2 separate regions of the Homo sapiens genome follow, and region 2 is linked to region 1. Evidence: fine-mapped expression QTL. Tissue or cell type: whole blood. Region 1 holds a variant in brackets; the other region holds the start of a gene. All regions are shown on one strand. Distances are from middle to middle.

Region 1 (2,689 bases):
GAGCAAAACTAATGTCTACCTCAAACAGTAGGAATTCAATGAGATTATGTCAATAAAAGAGCTTTTAAGTGGTAAAGTGTTATGCAATGTTAATCTTTATATTCATTATTCTTATTATTATGTATGTGGTGAAAGCTTACCTTCGTTTGAACCATGCCAGAACGTTGTTCTCTCATTTGGGCCACTATATCCATGATGTTGAACTGTAATAAGATGACAGTAATTTTGTATGATCCACATGGGGGAAAAACACAAATTCACAGATTGCCAAAAAGGGTGAAAGAGATGTCAAGATTTAATCAGAAAGATCTCATTTTCACTCACAAGAAAATGTGCTATTTTTAACTTAGCCCAATGGATAAGGAAGACTATTTTAATAGGTTTTCAGGAGAAAGCAGGAAGCAATCATTCATAATAAGAAATGCTCTCCAAAATAAGTAATAAATTTGCCCTTGTGTGTCCCTGTTTGTTATCCAAAGGCAGAACTTAAAGCAGCACTGTAATTCTGGAAAGGCACAGAAGACTTTCTCTGGCCCCAACAATAGCATATCTGTTTCTTATATGAAGATCCCTGTCAACTCACACGGAAACTGGGAGCAACAGTCGACCCAACACTAGATTCCAGACTGTGTGTGGACACCAGTACAGCTGGGTGTGGTCATTGAGTTGGTGCAGGCCTACAAAGGTCTGTTGCTGGTCCACAATGAGTCAAGAAACTGGGAGTAAGTGCTCAGAAACTCTTATGGCAATTTGACACTGGCACAGCACTGAGAAGTGTGCTCAACTGAACAGGATATAGACCAGCTCAGGTGTTGCTGAACTTGCCTGGAGAGTCACATGTGGGACAAGCTGAGAATGAGTCGTTTCAGCAAGACATTGTGGACACATGTAAATGTTGTCAACTGTAACCCCAAAGCATATAAAAATAGAAAACAATAAGCATTCCTTTATTTTCATAGCTTATCATTTTTATAATTAAAATTTTTAATTAACCCTTTGAAAAAACTTTT[A/T]GTTTTTTAGAGACAGGGTCTTGCTCTGTTGTCTCAGCTGCTGGAGTACAGCGGTGTCATCATATTTCACTGCAATCTCAAACTACAATCCTCCCTCCTCAACCTCCTGAGTAGCAAGAACTATAGGTGCGTTCCACCATGCCCAGCTAACTTTTTTATTTTTATTTTTGTTACCCAGGCTGGTTTCAAACTCCTGGCCTAAAGTGATCCTCAGCCTTGGCCTCCTAAGGTCTGGGATTATAGGCGTCAGCCACCATATCTGCCATAAAAAAATTTTATTTTATAATACAGATATACAGGAAGTTGTACAGGGTGGCCCTGTGTATCTTTCACCCAGTTTCCCAGATGGTGTCATCTTGTTTAACAAGATATAATATCAAAACCAGGAAACTGACATTGGGACAATCCACAAAGCTTAATTCAGATTTCACCAGTTTTACATGCAACTGTTAGTGAGTGTGTGAGAGTGTGTATGTGTGCATGTGTGCATGCACAGAGCTCCATGCAATTATATCATATGTGAAGATTCATGTAACTATAACCACAGTCCAGATACAGAGCTGTTCCACCACAAGACTTCCTCCTGCTATCCCTATAGAGTCACACTCATCCACCCCAATCTCTAACCCTTGGAAAATAGTAATCTGTTCTCCTTCTCTATGCTTTTGCTATTTCAAGAAGAAATAGCAAAATTCACTATATGAATAAAATTGCACAATAGCTAACCTTTTGTGATTGACTTTTTTCCCACCCAGAATAACTTGGAGATCCATCCAAGTTGTTGGTGTAACAATAGTTTGCTTCCTTTTATTGCTAAATAATATTCCATGATGTGGATATGTGCCACTTTATTTAACCATCAATTTGTTGAAGGACATCTGGGTTGTTCTGGTTTTTGGCTACTGTGAATATAATCTGCTATGAACATTTACATACAGGTTTCTGTATGAACATAAATTTTGATTAATCTGGGATAAATGCCCCAAGAGTGCTATTGCTGGGTTATATGTCAACTTTAGTTAGTTTTGTTTTTGTTTTCTTTCCAAGAAACTGCTCAATTGTTTTCCGTAGTGGCTGGTACCAGTCTACATTCCCAATGTCTCATACATATGGGTAATGTATGAGCAATACAGTTTCTCCAAATCTTCACATAATTCTCCAAATCCTCACCAGCATTTCCAAATCTTCATCAGCATGGGGTGCTGTCACTATTTTTACATAAGCCTTTCTGATAGGTGTGTAATGCTACTCCATCCTGGTTTTAATTAGCATTTCCCCAAGGGCTAATGAAGCTGAGCATCTTTTCACGTGCTTGTCATCTGTATGTTCTCTTTGGTGAACTGTCTGTTCATGTCTTTTACCCATTTCTGTTTTTCTTTTTTTTTTAACTATTGATTTTTGAGGGTTCCTTATAAATTCTAGATCCAAGGCCTTTGTTGGATATGTGCCCTGCATATAGTTACTCTCTAGCTTGTTTTTTTTTTTTTATCCTCTTCATTGGGTCTTTCACAAAACATAAAATTTTAGTTTGCTTTCCCTCTGAGATCAGTGATGGCAACAACGCCTGCTCTCACCACTCTTATTCAATATAGCACTTGACATTTTAGTACAGCAATAAGACCAGAAAATAAGTAGGATGTATACAGATTGTATACAGATCAAAAAGGAAGAGACAAATC
Region 2 (2,689 bases), 88 kb after region 1:
TGTACACTATTAAACTAGATGTCTTCACCAGTCCCATATATTTTAAATACTATGTACAGTATATGATGCCGATTCCAAAGGTTAACTCTAGCCCGACATCCTCCAGAACTTCAGATTTAAATTTCTAAAAAGCACATTTGATATCTCAACCCAAATATCTACTAGATAATTTATGTGTGTATATTTCACCATACTAAAAAAAACTACCAGGTGACTGATAAATGGAGAGAAGGTGAATAGGTAATGTGAAAAATCAAATGTGCTAAATATTCATGGCACCTGTAGGTGGTAGGTGGTCAGAGTCCTCTGCAAAATTCTTCCCAGCTATGCTTATGTCTTCTATTGGGAAAAACCTACTGGGCATCTCAAACCTAACACATTCAAAACATAAGTACTGATTCCACAACTTCCAAAAATGAAACCTACCCCATCCTACAGTTTTCCTTGAGTCAAGGCTAGCATATGAGGGCCTTGGCATATGGGGGCATTGCCTATCGCGTTCATAGATATTCTGAGCTTCTAGAACAGCATCTGGCACACAGGAGGCGTTCAAAATAGCTGCTGAATGGATTGATGAATTCATGTTCTTTCTTTCTAGGTCCCTCGACCTCCACCCGCCCTTGAGTCATTGGGAAGTTCTGGGCTGTCTCAGCGCCTGATGATGGCTTCTTACCAATCATACCACACGGCTGCTCCTCAGGGAGTTGGTGGCATTCCCCTACCACAGAGCCACAGGGTTCCTGTCCCGGTCCCGTCTCGCATAGGCGCCCCAACACGCGTCACAGTGCAGCTGGCATCACACGGCCAGAATCACGTCCTGCCCTCTGGCTGCAGCGACACTACTTCACAGCTCAGGCCCACCCGGGCAGTCTCCCGGGCCAGGGCCACAACCCACGCCTTGTGACCCCTGCACGTCAACGGCATCTTCCTTCTTCACGCCCGCCCTCCCACAGCCCGGCGCAGCGGCCTCCCGCACGCCCCCTGCCCACCTGGCCCCCAGCCACCTTTCCTCACCTGGGCCTGCGGGGCCGCCCCAACTGTCCCGCTGCAACCCCAGCAGCCTCGCCAGTTGGGTCCACGCCTAGCCTGCCGGCCTTCGTCGCTATCCAATCCCACCTGCGCCCGCGAGCCTGCGCACTGGAGCTTTGCCCTGCGCCGCGGCACTCTGCCCTGCGCCGCGGCCCTCTGCTTGCCAGGCCGGGAGAGACAGAACCTGCCTCTACCGGTCTTCCAAGGCACTGAGAGCCCATCGCCGCGGACGCCGCTGTAAATTCCCTGCGGGCCCTGTGCACCACCCTGTGCGGGTCCCCCTCTCCCAGGCCAGGCTGATAATGTCAACAGCTCTCTGAGCTATGCTCATATCCTGAACCACTGAGGACTGTGTTCTCCAGGAATGCTCGCCTGACCCACGCCTGCCCTCTAAGCCCCTAATGAGGCCCCAGAGGGCTGGGGTGGGGGGGTCTCTTTGTAGTATCAGAGCAGGGCAGATAGGCAAAAGGAGTCAGAGCCTGTGCCAGAATATGAGGTCAGTTGGCTGCTAGGTCAATTAAGACAACTTCAGCAAGGGTGGTCAATGTAGAGGGAATTCAATCGTTGGCATTGCCTGAAAACAGGAAGCCAGAATCTTTTTATCTTGACGAACAAACCTCTATTCATTGGTCCTGACCTGAGCCACTTTGGTGAATCCAGATACCCTGAAGGTGTGACAAGACCTGCCTCACTTATCCCCCAGCCTTCAGTGCTGGTCCCACAGAGAGCCATATGCTTGAGCTGAACTGCAGTTAAGCAGTGACAGCTACCCTCTGTCCAGGCTCTGAGGCCAGCCTTCTGCTCCGTGAGTCACTGACAGTGAGTCTCTACAGAGACTTTTTCTTTCTGTAGCAGCCAAGGTACCCTGCAAGCAACCCACGCCATTGCCATATGTCTTAGTTTGTTTGTGTTGCTATAAAGCAATACCTGAGGCTGGGTAATTTATAAAGAAAAGAGGTTTGTTAGTTTCACAGTTTCACAGGCTGTAAAAGAAACATGGCACCACCACCCGCTTTTGATGAGGGCCTCAGGAAGCTTCCACTCATGGCAGAAGACAAAGGAGAGCCAATGTGTGCAAGACAGAGGAAGAGAGAGAGGTGGGAGGTGCCAGGCTCTTTTCCATGACCAGTTCTCATGAAAACAAAGACTAAGAACTCACTCAGTTCCATGAGACTAGCACCAAGTCATTCATAAAGGATCTACCCACATGACCCAGACACTTCCCACCAGGCCCCACCTCCAACATTGGGGATCAAATTTCAACACTAGATTTTATTTATTTATTTATTTATTTTGAGATGGAGTCTCGCTCTGTCGCCCAGGCTGGAGTGCAGTGGCGTGATCTCAGCTCACTGTAATCTCCACCTCCCCAGTTCAAGTGATTCTCCTGCCTCAGCCTCCCCAGTAGCTGGGACTACAGGAGCATGCCACCATGCCTGGCTAATTTTTGTATTTTTAGTAGAGACGAGGTTTCACTGTGTTGGCCAGGCTGGTCTTGAACACCTGACCTCAGGTGATCCGCCCGCCTCAGCCTCCCAAAGTGCTGGGATTACAGGCATGAGCCAACGCACCCAGCCCAACATTAGATTTAGATGGGACAAATATCCAAACTATATCACCAGGGTAAGATTCCCCTTTAAAGATGGACCCCATGTCTAAT

Evidence for each region. PIP is the estimated chance that this variant, and not a neighbour inherited with it, causes the effect.
Region 2: it holds the start of PTPN20, and the variant in region 1 is fine-mapped to the expression of PTPN20 in whole blood (TOPMed, PIP above 0.99). The same link has a PIP of 0.9 or more in nasal epithelium.

Annotation. Positions count from the first base shown.
Region 1 is chr10:46,997,426-47,000,114 of GRCh38, reverse strand. PTPN20 (protein tyrosine phosphatase non-receptor type 20) reads right to left here. Exons shown (of 11, transcript NM_001042357.5): 10 at 141-203. Among named protein-coding and RNA genes, the nearest start is that of PTPN20, 87 kb to the right of the region's middle. The variant A/T (reference allele first, on the strand shown) is at 1,011.
Region 2 is chr10:46,909,827-46,912,515 of GRCh38, reverse strand. PTPN20 (protein tyrosine phosphatase non-receptor type 20) reads right to left here and starts at 1,088. Exons shown (of 11, transcript NM_001042357.5): 1 at 1,015-1,088.